Regions from separate parts of the Homo sapiens genome. Here region 1 is linked to region 2. Evidence: fine-mapped expression QTL. Tissue or cell type: whole blood. Region 2 holds a variant in brackets; the other region holds the start of a gene. All regions are shown on one strand. Distances are from middle to middle.

Region 1 (8,000 bases), 110 kb before region 2:
CTGAGATGCATTTCTGCAGGGGAGCCACTCCCTGAGAGCTTTGTGTTTCCTTCCTGTTAGCGATCTCATGAATAAATAAACTCTCTGCCTGGCACCGATACCTCCAGCCTGCTCTGATTCAACACATTCCTTTGCTACTCTTTCCCACCCCAGTCAGATTTCCTGAAATCTCGAGCCCATTACACGTAAGTAATTAATTTTTCACTCATTAGAATTGGCTTGGAATTCAGTGAGACAGAAAAAAATAGGTGAGGTCCTGGAAGTTAGGGTAAATAATGGTGACGAATTACCCGTCAGCAGACAGTAAAGCAAGACCTAGAAACGGGTCCTCAAATACTAGCTGGCATGGTAATTAATTAATTGTTTAATTAGATACATGTAGCTGTCGCTCTGTGGAGCTCACAACACTGTTTTCGAGACTTGTCTAGGCAAAACTGTGGAGTAGCTCAAAAACGTGACTTTAATCCCTGATGGAAATTTCGGGGGTTTGGCAGAGCTTTTGAAGCCAACAGCCCTGGGAGTCTATTTGATTCATTCTAATAAACATCTATTGGGCACCTTCATTCCTGCCTGGGCAGACATTTGAACCAGGTTTTTACACTTAGGAACACGTAAGATGGCAAGGTGTTCACCAACCACACGTTCCGCAAGGCTGCTCACAGGTGGAGCAGAATGAGACCGAGGAAGGGGCTGCTCCTCTCCGCTCCTGTGCTGGTCTGCACTTCCAGACAGAGGCACTATGCTGTTTGTGGTGTCAGTCAACACAATGGGACAATTATAGATAAGCCAGCCACCAGACAAAACACACACATAAATGACCAATCCCAGGGAGAGCAGGTGGATAAAGAGGTGTGTAATTCCACAGGTGGGAGAGAATCTTTCTAACCAGGAGATTTGGGAAGGCTGCATGGAAGAAGTGGCGTTTGAACTTGGACTGGACTGGGTGAAATTCCGTGTGCGGCTATGACTCAGGTTGTGGGGAAGGGGAGACGACAGGAGGGAGCACATTAGAAAAACAGACACCACAGGTGGGGACTCTCCATGGACAGCTGGGAATTCTGCAGCTGAACCTCGGAGCTTGAAAGAGACGGGAGGAACAGAAAGCAGGAGAAATGTTTAGTGCAGGGCTCGTGAGACCATTGGTGTCAATTAAGGATTTCTTCAGTTTGCAGGCATAGAATCATGGGTTGTACAGCAAGGGGCCTGTGGTCTGTGCTAAGAGGGACTTTTTAGAAGAGTGATCTGACAGCCGTGGTGGGAAGACTGGAAGGAGGCTCTGAAGGCCTGACATGGGCCATAGCCAGAGGCCTCGACAGGAGCAGGTGGCGCACAAGAGAAATGCTGTGGGTAGAAGTTCTTGAGGGGACTCAAAGTGAAAGGGAGGCTGCTCTCAGAAATAATGTACATGGGGGAAAGTATTGGTAGGTAGGATGAGTTTGATTGTGGACAGCATGAATTTCAAGGAGATGGTAGGAGTTCCAGATAAAGATGATATCTATCAGGCTCCTGGAAATGGCAGTCTAAGACCGAGAGCCCACACTCACACGTGTAATGTGTAGGTGCCCAAAGACCTGCTGAAAGGAACCATCAGCTCAAAATCTGAGTTTGCAATTGATGTGTTTAATGCAAATTACAAGTTTTCTTTGCAACCAACATCAGTCATAGGATCATATGCAAATGATTAAGGCCCATCAAAAAGAATATATATATATATATATATATATATATATATGTATTTTTTTTTTTGAGACTGAATCTCGCTCTGTCACCCAGGCTGGAGTGCAGTGGTGCGATCTCGGTTCACTGTAACCTCCACCTCCCGGGTTCAAGTGATCCTCCTGCCTCAGCCTCCTGAGTAGCTGGGACTACAGGTGTGTGCCACCATGCCCAGCTAATTTTTTGTAGTTTTTAGTAGAGATGGGGTTTCACCATATTGACTAGGCTGGTCTTGAACTCCTGACCTCATGATCCACCTGCCTTGGCCTCCCAAAGTGTTGGGATTACAGGTGTGAGCCACCGTGCCTGGCCCGCGAATATATATTTTTTATTCCGACATTATACCGCCCTAAATGGACTTGACACCATTTATTGCTTGGAATGCACAGTGCATCTTTGCTGTAATGAAATGAACTCAGGGCTTTGCTTTGGAGACTGGGGTTTGAATCCTGGTTCTGCTCCCCTTTCTGTCTCTAAGGACTTTTATCTGTGACGTGTAGGGGCTGTGTGGGATCTTCCCCACGGCCCCTGCATTGCTGGTCGGTCTCTTTATCATGCAAAGGGGAGAGATGATGGTGGGGCCACATGCTTGTGCCACCCGTATCTGTTGCATTGAACGCAGTCTGGAGCGAAGGACGAACCCACGGCGCACACCAGGCGGAGGCACACGGCTCGGCGCAGGAAGCACACGGGTTTGGGGTTCCTGTTTCCCAGCTCATCGTCGAATGTCATTCTCACAATTCCCCACTGAAAGGACCGATCCTTACAGGAAATGCACACACCTCTGGCGGTTGCCACCACTGCTAGATCCATGGGAAGGGCAAAGGTGGGTGAGGCATGGGCTCTGTCCTCCAGGCGCTTACACTCACAAAGAATACAGAGAAGATAAAAAAGGTCAAACGTGATGAGGGCGGGAAGTGGCCGGTGCAGGAAGAGAAAGGAGAGAGATTGTTCTGGACCTGGGGTCAGGGATGGCTGTGGGTGGCAGGGGCAGAGAAGGGGCAGGCTCTCCGGGGTGGAGGCCGGGAGCAGAGGTGCTGCGGGTCAGCCGCGTTGTTTGCAGGAGCCGGAGTGTGGAGGCCGCAAGGCTGCCGTGCAGGTGGGTCCCGGCTGGTGGGGGCTCCGGTCGAAGCGGGGTGGGGGGGTGGTGGGGGGTAGGGGTAGGGGGGTGAGGTGGGGGACCTGTGTTCCTGCGGCCCACTCTGAAAGGGGAGTGAGTGCAGCTGGGCCTCCGGGAGCCAGCGCTGGCCAATGTCCCGTGGAGGACGGGGAGGCGAGGAGGTCTTTAGGAAGCTCTGGGCCTAAGGGAGGGGCCGGGCTGGGAAGAGGGGGTACAAGGATGAAAAGGAGGCCAGGTCGTCGGGGCTTTGTGCAACAGACTGGGGAGGATGTGTGGAGACAGAGGAAGGTGATGATGAAGACAACGGGGGCGGTTCTGAGAAGCAGAACTTCCAGTGACTAAGAGTCACTGGAAGCAGCTGGCTTCATTTAGGGTTTGTGGCGTTTGGGGTGTCTAGGGGCTTCCAGGGAAGTTTGCTCAGTGGACGGTTGGAGATGCGAGGGCCTCCCCAGATGGTCAGGACTAGAGGCACAGACGGGGCTTCAGCCTCGCCGAGGTGGCACTGAGGCTGGGAGCTGATGGCCCCACAAGGAGAAGGACGGTGGGAACCCTGGGGCCTGCAGCCTGTTCCGGGAGGGCTGGAGCCAGGCTTTTCGGGCCCACCTGGCATTTGGAGATTAGGTGACCCAACCTTGTCTTCCCATCCCCTTTTCACAGATGGGGACACTGACCCTCCAGGCAAAGGCTCAGAGTCGCTCAAGGTCATCTGCTGGTCGTTGCATTCGAAACTTCCAGCCTAGCGCTCCGTCTCCGCCTCTTAAAATGTTCATTAACAAAAAACCAGCCCTCCAAGACCCGGGGCACTGCGAGTTTTCGCGCAGACGTCAAGCTGCGGCTCCAGGACGTGATTTTCGCAGGGAGCCGGGTGGACCAGGCTCTGGGGCCGGGCCCGCAGGCTCCGCTGGACGCGCAGAGCCCAGGACAGACAAGACCGCCCCGCCCCGCCCCGCCCCGCGGGCCCCGAGCCCCCAACCCGCCCCCGAGCGCGCCCCCGGGAGCGCGCGCTTCGCCGACGCGGCCGCGCGCCCCCCCGCGCGCTCCCGCTCCTGCGCGTCCTCGCGCCCCGCGCGCGCGCGCCCTGCCCCCGCGGCCCCGTGACGCGCGCGCGCAGAGACGCTCCCGCCGGGCCGGGGCCGAGAGCAGCAGGGCCGGGTCCGGGTCCGCAGCGCCTGCGGGGAGGGGCCGAGCGCGCGCGGGGCGGGCCGGGGACCGTGGGGCGCGGGGGCGCGCGAGGCGGCCGTGGCGGGGCCGCGCTGAGGAGGCGCCGAGGGGAGGGAGGTCCCTGCGCGCCCGCCGCCCGCCTCCCGCGCCCGCGCCGCCGCCTCCTCCTCGGTGCGGTTCCGCCGGGCGCGAGGAGCCGCCGAGACCTCCGCCTGCGAACAAAGAGGAGGCCGTGCGGGGCGCGGCGCCCGCGGAGCATGGCGGACCGCAGCCTGGAGGGCATGGCGCTGCCCCTGGAGGTGCGGGCGCGCCTGGCCGAGCTGGAGCTGGAGCTGTCGGAAGGTAACCGGGCCCCCGCCCCGGGCCGGGCCGCGCTGTCACCGGGGAGGGCCGCGCGCGGAGGGCTGGGGGCGCGGGGCCTGCGGCGGGGCGGGGGCCGGGCCCGGAGGGGGAGGTGCGACCCCAGCCCGGAGCGTGCGCGTCCCCCGGACCCCCAGACCCCGCGCCCTAGGGACGTTTGTGAGGCCGCGATCCCCCGCGCTCTGGGGACGTTTGTGGGGCCGCGATTCCCCGCGCCCTGGGGGTGTCTGTGGGGCCTGGGATCCCCTCGCGCTCTGGGGGTGTTTGTGGGGCCGCGATCCCCCGCGCCCTGGGATGTTTGTGGGGCCGCGATCCCCCCGCGCCCTGGGGGTGTCTGTGGGGCCTGGGCGCCGCGCGGGGACGCAGGATGCAGCGGGCCCGGCGGGATCGGCCTTCCCGTGCGCTCTGCGCTGGAGCCGCGGCGTCCTTGGTGCAGCAGCGCGGTGCGCGCCACCTCCTCGCTGGCGGGTTCGGCCTGGAACGCCCGGCCAGATTTCAATGCGAAACTTGTCGTTGGACCCCGGGTTCGATCTCTGGTGGCTCAGGCCGTGCAGCGGTCCTGGCGCGGCCCGGGGGATCCCACCCCCATTGTTCGCGGGCGCTGCGCGGGGAGGGCTGGGCGGAATCGTCAACCTCCCCCCGGGCCGGGCTCCGGCCTTGCCGTCCTGGTCCTCTCGTAGGAGGGTTTGTGGCAGATCAGCCACCGCGGTCTTATGGAGGGTTGTGTACGCCTCTTATTTGCTCTTCATGGCGGAGATCATGTGCTCAACTGTCATAAGTTTCAGATCGGGCTTTGCCAGGTCTTTTCCCCAAAACCACTGAAGTTCCCAAATCTGAAATGTTTGATGTGCATTTAGCCGTCTCTGGGCTCATCCTGGTCAGGCCATTCCTGTAACGTGGGGTGGGGTGGGGGTGGGCCGGCGCGTCTCACATTTATATTTGGAGCAGTTTAGCATGGTGAACTTTTTTTGGGTAACGGTTTTGTGAGGGCCGGCAGCCAGAAAGTAAACTCATTCGTGCCAATTTTCACCGGCAGGGAGGAGCTGGTGTTGACTTTATGTTTTCCTTTTTAACACTTTCAGGGCAAAGAAGGGAGTGAGCAGGGGCCATGGTGTGCAGCCAACTGCCTTTCCAGACTTCTGGGGACGGGAAATGGTACTGTTTTTCAGTTTCAGATGTGGGGTTCCGCGAGGTGTGTCAGTGTCCTGTAACGTGACACAGTTGGCGGGGGGCAGAGTCTTCCAGGCCTGTGGGCTTGGCTGCTGCCCTCCTGAGGAGCTGAGGATGAGGAGGGCATGGCTAGGAGGCGGGAGCTGCCGTGTGCAGGGTTCGGATGTAAACTGGTAAGTAGATTGTGCAGTGCAGACAGCTCGTTTGGTGGGTAAGGAGTGTATCATTTGCAAAAGGCCCACCCTGGTTATCTGATTGTGTCAGCCTTGGGTAGGTTTCCCGGCTTGCGTCTCGGCCCAGGTGCACCCCTGCCTGCAGCACCCTCCGTGTTCGCTGTCTCAGGACAGGGGCTTCTGTGCTGCCTGCATCACACTGATGTGAAGTGTCAGTGCCCCATCCAGGTCAGCAGAGCGTAGCGCCCCTGAGCTCAGCAGGGCGAGCCCCATCTGAGGGTTCCCCCACCCACTGCTAGCCCAGAAGTTGGACCCACATTTGTTCCCAGAGTCTGGGATGTCTATGGGAATGGGTGTCCTGTGTTGGGCATTGTGGCCTTTTGAGGTGACGACACTTGCCTGTCAGTTGCTCTTGGAGGGTGAGTGATACTGTCTTGCTGCCCAGATGATGGCAAAGCCACTTTCGACGAAGGTGTGCTCAGCCGAATTCCCTGTGAACACCTTGCGTCTGTACAGGTTTTTTAAAAAGGGCTTAATGAGTTAGTTTCTTATTGAGAGACCAGGCAGAGAAAGGGGTGTGTGTGTTTGCATGCAGGAAGCCTAATTATATTTTTCCTTCCACATGAATCTTGCTGAGATCTGAGCTACACATTTAAGAAGAAAGGGTGAGAGGGTTGCTCCGTGGCTCTATTCAGCCTCTCTGCACCCTCCGGCCTGTGCTGGCCCCACTGCCTCATCTGTTTGCTGGATGGTCTTTAACTTTGCTGTGAAGTGTGGGTTTGCCCAGGTTGAGTTTATGGGGGTAGTGCTGTAAGGTCATTTGGAATTCTCTGTCTCATAACCACATAAAACAGTTTTACAGGCTTAAATTAGATGAATCAACTTGTTTTCCAGTATTGCTTAATAGAAATCCAAGAATTGAAGGATCAAAATTCTGTGTTTCTTTATGTTATTGGACTTCAAAAATTCCTCAATGTATCTGCTTTCAGAGTGAAAGCTGAAAACAGCTGTTAATGCTGAATTATTTCCCATCTTCAATCAAAATTCAAGTGGAGAGAATTCTTTAAGTTGGTTGTCATCATTTTATTAAAATATCAGAAAATATTATAGAAACATATGTGGAATTTCCAGTGCTCATTTCCTACAGAGGAGGATGGAAAAAGTTCCGTTTTAAGCACATAACATAGACTGAAGGAAAGAGTAGAGCATTCCCCTGAGGTTCCTGTGTGGGCTGCCAGCCTGCGTGGGTTACGCATTGTGTGGGTTTCTAGACCCTGGTCCAGTTCTGCTGTGCCCGCCTGCTGGGCGCCATTACATGCACTGCTGGTGTCCTGCTTTGCAGGGCTGCAGGGGCACTTCCTGCTGCGGGGCCGAGGGCTCCATCCTTCTTCCACTGCCTGTCCCTGTCCCGTGCCCTGTGCCCCCTCACAGGGGAAGGTGAGGCCAGCTCACACCACAGAGCATGCGGCCAGCAAAACACAAGGGCTCTCTGTGGGGAGAAGTGCTGGGCAGCCCTCTTGTGGGAGCTGATGGCCTCGAATCCATGTGGGGATACATTCAGGTTGTGTGGCCAGGGGGGTCATCTCCTCACATACTTGGGTCTGAGTGTGAGCCAGGGAGGAGGCCATGCAGGTAAGGAGGCCACACGGTCAGGAGGCTGTGTGGGTGGGGAGGTTGTGCGGGTGGGGAGGCTGTGTGGGTGCGGAGGCTGTGCAGGTGGGGAGGCCATGAGGGTGCGGAGGCCCCTCGGGTGAGGAGGCTGTGCAGGTGGGGAGACCACGTGGGGGGAAGGCTGTGCTAGTGGAGAGGCCCCGCAGGTGGAGAGGCCGTGAGGGTGCGGAGGCCCTGTGGCTGAGGAGGCCCTGCAGGTGAGGAGGCCATGAGGGTGGGGAGGCCTCCAGGTGATCTGGAGCTCCATTCTGGGGAGGGTCAAGGAATGAGAGGGCTGTGGCGGCTGCTTTCTCATACTCCTTTCCCCAGAATATTTTCTTCTCCCTTCTCTTCCCTACATTTTTGCCCTTTATAATTGGGTATTCTTTTTTGTGGCTTTAAAGGGCCTAAAAATAATTTCATTAATAACTGATACTTTACATGGAATTGCCAAACAAATTGGAGTGGAAGCAGAAAACTTCCCCATAAAGACAAACTCATGTCTTATTTATTTTTTAATTTTTGAGACGGTCTCACTCTGTCTCCCATGCTGGAGTGCAGTGGTATGAGCTCAACTCACTGCAACCTCCGCCTCCTGAGTTCAAGTGGTTCTCATGCCTCAGCTTCTTGAGTAGCTGGGATTACAGGTG
Region 2 (8,000 bases):
TTTGCGCTTTAGTGATATGCCGTGTTTGCTTTGCATGCCCCTTGGCTTTTCAGAAGAAAACTGCGTTTGCAGATGCACTTGGAGTACAACGTTCTTTTTCCTATGAGTGTATTTATGGTGAAGGCTCCATTGGAGGAGATATGCTCATGCATTTCTCTGTGTGTTGTGGGGGATAAAAGTAGTCACTGATTCTTGCAAACCTAGAAGATGCCCAAAAGGTAATACATGTGAAAATATGTGGCAACTGCCATAAATCGCCATGTATTATGTGTGGCAAAGTGCTGTGTGTTTTGTTTATGGAGAAAATTAGTCTTCCCCATTTTCCCAAGAGGTAACACTTGAATATACATCAGAAATTTTATTTGAAAATGGTACCTTCCTTCTATTGTTTTGAGACTATATCATAGGAACTTAGGTATATAATTTTCTCAATTAGAACCTCCAGGTTTTGTCATAGCCCCTTTGTGTCATTACAGTGTCTGATTCCACTATATTTAAACCAGGAAGAGGCCGGCCACGTGGCCACGCTGGTGCTTCCCAAGCACAGGGTCTCACAAGGGCGTGAACACTTGGTTTGGAGACACGCTTTTCTTCCTGATAGAAACGCTATCACACCATTCTCTAGTCTTCTGCGGTGTTTCCTCCACCTAAACGCATCCAGTTTCTGTTGGTTTTTAGTTTATTTATATTTTCTGAGACAGGGTCTTGCTCTGTCACCCAGGCTGGCATGCAGTGGTGTGATCCCAGCTCACTGCAGCCTGGACCTCCCTGGCTCAGGCGATCCTCCCACCTCAGTCCCCCAAGTAGCTGGGACCTCAGGCGCGCACCAGCATGCCTGGCTAACTTTCTTTTCTTTGTTGCAGGGATGGGGTCTTGTTATGTTGCCCCGGTGTGACTCTGTTTTATGTTAAGTGTACGGTGGGTTTTTACGGAGAACCTCTGTATTTGGGTTGGGTGCATGGCATCCTGGTCAGGGAGCTGCCCTCAGGCTTCCTTTCTGCCCAGCAGGGTCACGAGTGGTGTCTCCACCTGGGCTGGTGTGGGTGCTGGCCGGTAGGGCTTAGCCCTGGGCTGCAGACTGGTGCCAGTCCACGGTCTGTTAGGAACCGGGTTTTTGTAGCAGGGGGTGGGTGGCCGGTGAGTGAGCATGACTGCCTGAGCTCCGCCTCCTCTTGGATCAGTGGCAGCATTAGATTCTCATAGACACTGGAATCCTATTGTAAACTGTGTTCTCATAGACGTTGGAACCCTATTGTAAACTGTGCGTGAGGGATCTCGGAGGTGCTCCTTATGAGGATCCAATGCCTGACCTGAGGTGGAACGGTTTCATTCCAAAACCACCCCCCAGAAAAATTGTCGTCCACGTAAACCCATCGCTGGTGCCAAAAAGGCTGGGGACAGCTGGCCTAACATGTGCTAAGATGTCAGTAGATTTTTGGACTCGGACCTCAGTTGGAGAGGATTAGATTTTGAAAGGTGGGGGATTGAAGGCTTCTCAAGGACAAGTTTTCATCTCCAGTAGGGCCTGGGCAGAACCGGGTAGAACTGACCCAGAACCTGACAACCAGCCAGCCCCGGCTCACTGCCTGCATCCTGTGTGTGCAGCCTTGCTGTTTGATTCTCTCGTGGTGGTGGGTTCCATCCATGGCCTCAGAGGGTAATGGAACCCATTACTTCAAGGCTGACCTTATTTAACTTTACCAAAAATACATTAAAATCATTTAGTATAAATCTTCCAGATACTTGTATCTTTTCTTTTTCTAGAGGCTTTTAAGTATTGCAACTTAAAAATCTTCAAATATAACTTTAAAAAAAACCTCTAAGTACATTTTTGATTAGCACCTTTGACAGCTTAACATGTTAAGTAAATTCCCTTGACTTTTGTATTCCTAGAAACTCATATTTGCAGAAGACTGCCTGTATTTTGTCAACAGTGGCCACTGTTTGACCATCATACTTGCCATCTCTCATTTAGAAAGTTGGGTGTGGATGTATTAACTTTTTAGACATACAAACACATGGGCTGTTTTTGTTGTTTTTTCCCCAGCTGAATTCAAGAAAGGGAAACAAGTAGACTAGAGTAAGTATCAGAAAGCGTCTAAGTGGCCAGGTGGGGGATGTCCACTTTGTGGTGGGGAATCCTACTTTGGTGTTGGATTGCATTCTGCCAGACATCGCTCCTAGAAAAGCTGACCCTGAAGGGCTTGGTGTTGCCCTCACCCTGGGACATTGGTCTCTCTCACCAGAAAATGAATAATCTGCCAGAATACTGTGAGTCAAATTGTCAGAACTCGATTAAATAAGAGGCTTTGTCTCAAACGCCAAAACATGAGGACACACTTCTAATTTTTTAAGGAGTGCTTCATCGTGAGTCAGTCCTGACGTGTACTATGTTAGGAAACCTCTGAACTCCACAGTCAAGCCAGAGCTCTGACAGAAAGTGGTTGCGCCCTTCTCACTGTGTTTTTGTCACTAGCTTTATTCATGAAAATTATTTCCTTAAAACCCTCTTTGTATGACTTCTATTACAGTTTGGAAAAAAAAATTATGTGGAACTGGAAGCCTTTCTGCAGCGTTAATATTCATGGCCTGTTCTGGGTCTCGGTATATGTGTACTATACAAATGTGTACTTGTATGTGGTGTATGCGTACTATGTATTGCCATTGTACATGTATTTACAATGTATAGGTATGTACACTACATGTGTCCTACATGTGTGCATGCTATGGGCATGCATGTACATGTGTACATATGTGCATAACTATGGGCACTATTATATCCACACTATTTGGACATGTATCTGTACTGCATATGTGTACATACATGCATGTATTTAACGCCATATATGTACCTGTGTACATACACCATATGGGTATTTGCACATTTGTGTACTTATATATATACATGTGTGCACACTGTAAGCATGCATGTACACTACGCACACTGAATAAACTTGTGGATATGTGCACACTAATGTACGCATGCTGCATATGTACATACACTATGTACTGCATATGTACATACTTTACACATGTATATGTTAGTGTACTGACATATATACATTATATATATGTGCATATGTATACACTACGCATGTGTAGGCATGCTGTAGTGCACTGTACATCGGATATGTGTACACTATATGCATGTATATAGATGTTATACCTATGTACATACAAATGTGCATGTGTATGCTATATGCATGTACATACAGGTTATAGTATACCTGTGTACACTGGATAGAGATGCGTGTACATGCTATTCATGTACATACATGTTATAGTGTACCTGTATATGTACATTGGCTATGGCTGTGCTTTATTCATGTACATACATGTTATAGTGTACCTATATGTACATTGTATGCATATAGATTGTGTGCTAGATGCATGTACATGTGTTATAGTGTACATATGCATGTACACTGTACAGATGTGTGTACATGCTATGCATGTACACATTATAGTGTACCTATGTACATATGCTATATGGATATGGATGTGTATGCTCTGCATGTACATACATTATAGTGTACCTATGTATGCTGTATTGATATGGATGTGTGTACACTATGTGTACATACATGTTATACTGCACTTACGTACATACACTATGGATCTGGATGTTTGCTCTATGCATGTACATGTTACAGTGCACATGTTTGTACACTATTTGGATGTGTATGCTCTATGCATGTACGCATGTGTTATAGTGTACCTATGTATGTACACTTTATGGATCTGGATGTGTGTATGCTCTCTGCATGTACACACATAGTGCACTTATGTTTGTACACTGGATCTGTATGTGTGTACGCTCTATGCATGTACACATGTGTTATAGTGTACCTATGTACATA[C/T]GCTATATGGATCTGGATGTGTGTACACTGTACACACATAGTGAACTTGTTTGTACACTACATTTGGGTGTGTGTACACTATGCATGTACACACGTATTATAGTGTACCTATGTGTGTACACTACATGAATCTGGATGTGTGTATGCTGTATGCATGTACACATGTTAGTGTACCTATGTACGTACACTAAATGGATCTGGATGTGTGTATGCTCTATGCATGTACATGTTATAGTGCACTTAGGTTTGTACACTGTATCTGGGTGTATGCTCTACGCATGTACACATGTTAGTGTACCTATGTACCTACACTACATGGATCTGCATGTGTGTATGCTCTATGCACATACACATGTTGTGCACTTATGTTTGTACACTGGGTCTGGATGTATGTACGCTCTACCACATACACGTTATAGTGTACCTACATATGTACACTACATGGATCTGGATGTGTGAATGCTCTATGCACGTACACATGTTACAGTGTGCCTATGTGCACACACTGTGGATCTGGATGTGTGTATGCTCTATGCACGTACATGTGTGTTAGTGTACCTATGTACGTACACTATATGGATCTGGATGTGTGTGCTCTCTATGCATGCACACATGTTATAGTGCACTTATGCTTGTACACTATATGTAGTTGGATGTGTGTACACTATGCATGTACACATGTTACACTGTACCTATGTACATATAGTATGTGGATCTAGATGTGTGTGTGCTCTATGGCAACAGGAATAGGGCCCCTGCAGGGATCCCGGAACACACCATCTCGTTAGCACCGGAGAGTATAGGATGAAAACAGTTGTTCATTACAAGCTAGTGAAATTTGGCAGGTTAGTAGATGCTTTGCAATGATTTAGGAACCAATCACTTCCTTGATGTGTGTGTTCCTGACATCATAAACAGCTCTGTGAGGTGTGTTTCATCCCCAGATGAGAGAAACGAAACAACAGGGACTTGGTGATTTCAGTGAGGTAGAACTAATATAGCAGCTGTCTAGCTTTCCATATCACAACTTTGTCAGCCCTCAGCTCAATAAATGAGAAGTCGCCACTCATCAGGAAACGTGTTCATTTTCTACTGTTCTTTATTCGTGGAGTATTTACTGCCTTGTGTTCTTCATGATGTAGCAAAATCCCTCCTAGTGTTGTGAATATAAACAGTTCATGACAAATGCAGTATCTTCTTTGTTAACGTTGAAAATGATATGTAAGTTCATCTTCAGGTACTGTTTGGAAGGATGAGAAAGAAGATATTTAGGATAAAAGAAGAATAGAGAGCTTTCGAGTAAACAGGGAAAATAAGGACTTTGTGCAAAACATTTCCAAATGTGGAATTTGAGAATAATCTCAAATCTAAGATTGTAGTTATTTGGATTTTTAAAATTAGTACTTAGTTTTCCACACCTTTGGGAATTTCACCCTTGATGGAGGATTGCAAGAATAATCTGATTTTTCAGAACAGAAGGACAGTCTGTCTCAAAGGTAAATTCCAGGTTCTACCATGGAGAAATAGAAATTGCTCCCAACTTTCCAAAAGGTTCTTAAGTTCTTTCTTCTTTTGTGGTTAAAAAAAAAAAAACACAAAAAAACAAAAGAAACAAAACAAAACATCTCTGGGTTTAGTCTCAGCCAAGTTCCTCTTACTAGGTTGCCTTACATTTCTCCCAGGTGTTCAGAGTCTTCATCATTACTAGTTATTTAGCTTGTTAAAAGCAAAACCTTGTATTAGTTAGATCTGAGCACCTTGAAGGCAGGGCTTTGTTTTATACTTTAAATAAGCAGCAGGCTGATGGCAGGGCTGGGGCCCTTCATCCCATCATGCGTTCCTCTGAGCATTCAGAGTTCTCACTGCGTGCTGAGTGTGGTGTTGGCTCTTGAAGGTTTAAATAGGAATACGAGGCTCTGCGACTCGCGAAGCTCTTACCACCTTCATAGAGAGCTTGGTGACGGCTTAGCATGAGAAAGTACACACAACAGGTGTGCAAACTGTTACGGCCACATAGAAAGGGTACTGACTTAAACGTGACTAATTTCTCATGCTTATTTTTGCCTTTATTTCTAGTTACAGTACCGATACTTCTTCTTCCTCTAAATTTTTGCTAATCGCTAGTGAATTAGTGATAAACTGTATTTACATGTTCTCTAAATCCAGTGACTTAACTGGAGGTCATTCTTCTTGTACCATGTGTCAGTGCTATGTCAGGATGGCTCAGTTTTACCTTGTCAAAGGATTAATTGCAGTAGGATGCAGCCATACTGGAACTTACTCATTTATGGAATATCTGCGCTTTATTTTTTGTTGTTAGTCACACTTGAGGTGTGTTCAAATGTAAACATGCTGAGCAGTGTTAGAAAGATATACAAGATTGTAACGAAGTAAGAAAAAACTGGATCAACTACCAGCTAATGAATTTTATATTTTAAGTAAATGGAATGTGGACCTTGGCAATTAGTTTTCATCTTGCCCTCTTATTTTTTTTTTTATTAGACAGAATCTTGCTCTGTCACCCAGGCTGGAAGGGTGGAGCACAACAGTACGATCTTGGTTCACTACAACCTCCTCCACCTCCCAGGTTCAAGAGATTCTTATGCTTCAGCTTCCCAAGTAGCTGGGGTTACAGGCGCGTGCCACCATGCCTGGCTAATTTTTTATTTTTAGTCGAGATGGGGTTTTGCCATGTTGGCCAGGCTGGTCTCCAACTCCTGATCTCAAGTGATCACCCACCTCACCTTCCTAAAGTGCTGGGATTATAGGTCTGAGCCACCATCCCTGGCCTGATCTTCTGTTTTAATATTGGTTATTCAGTCTCAATGATAGCACCTGGTTGTATTAAATTGGAGTAGAAAGCACAATTGAAATGAATGTGGTTGTGTATGTACATGCTAATTTAGCGCTCATGGCAGCACTGTGAGGTGGGCATTGTTTCTGAAGGAATGCCGGATGGGCAAGTCAGGGCTTAGATACGGGACTTGTGGGCAGTTACTGCTGTCCCATGGCTGAGACCAGGCCTGTCTGACTCCTGTACCCTGAACGCTTCTTAACATTGCCTTTCAACACACGTATGAGTAATTGTCAAGAGTCAGTGAGTGCTCGAGTGTGATGTGGTCTGTGGCGTTTGCCTCGCAGTGTTGCTTTGGCTTGGGATAACTGGGCGACAGCTCCCTTCCTTCTGCAGCTGCCTGGGAGTCCCAGGAGAACCCCACTGATACCATTTATAAATGCTGGACATGTGACATTCTGCTTGGTGCCAGCACATCTGGAATCCGACAGCGTAGTTAGATTCTTGGTCAGCAAACCCGTACAGGAGCGTGTGAACTCTGCATTTGCTTCTCCCGGACAAAGGTGAGTTCCTGGTCACTGTGCTGGATGGCAACAGGTGTGGCCTCAGGAGCAGGACAGAGACTGGCACCCACGTGCAGGAGTAGCATCTGCAAGGAGGTGGGGGATGTGACAGACACAAAACCACTGAAATCCTGAAAGTGCGAGCTCAGCTGTTACCATGGAGGAGAGGCGCAGGTAAGACCAGATTGTTTCTCATTGTTGCACGTTTCTGAAAATGACCCTAAATTGACTCTTCTTTGGCTCCTTGCGCTTCCTAGTTGGGTGGGAGGAAACTGTGCCCCTGGCTCTGGCCCTGCTTGCGGCGAGATGGAGGCTGCTGTAGCTTGCCCTGCCCTCCCTATGACTTCCTCTGTGCTGTTCTCCTCCAGGAACAGTTCTGCTGAGCAAGCTTGGACTCTGCTCCCTTCTGCTCTTGGATGTCATGTCTGGAAGGCTTGTGTTCTTTTCTGGGTTTTGATGATGCTGAGCTATGTTTTTGCAAGGATCACACGTGCCCATAGCAGGGAGAAGCCCCTTTGCGACTTCAACATCTTGACACTCTCAGCAGAGCTCGCTGTCGAAGTTGAGAGACTTTTGCGTTTGTTTTGGCAGAAGCTGAGTTTCAGTCCTAGGACGGCCTCAGCACACTTGATCCCAGCTCCTTTCTCTCACTGCTCCCCTCGTGTATGGCAGAAATCATATGCCCTGAAGTTTACCAGTCCCTTCATTTGAAAACTTCAGTTAATGTATATGATCCTCAAATGAGAATTTTACTTTTTATAAAAGCAATCACAAAGACTGGAT

What was found. PIP is the estimated chance that this variant, and not a neighbour inherited with it, causes the effect.
Region 1: it holds the start of DIP2C, and the variant in region 2 is fine-mapped to the expression of DIP2C in whole blood (INTERVAL, PIP above 0.99).

The regions. Positions count from the first base shown.
Region 1 is chr10:685,833-693,832 of GRCh38, reverse strand. It overlaps DIP2C (disco interacting protein 2 homolog C), which reads left to right and starts at 4,165. Exons shown (of 37, transcript NM_014974.3): 1 at 4,165-4,339. The coding sequence starts at 4,255. RefSeq lists an enhancer at 2,855-3,790.
Region 2 is chr10:575,277-583,276 of GRCh38, reverse strand. The region is part of intron 1 of DIP2C (disco interacting protein 2 homolog C); the gene reads left to right. Among named protein-coding and RNA genes, the nearest start is that of DIP2C-AS2, 49 kb to the left of the region's middle. The variant C/T (reference allele first, on the strand shown) is at 3,861.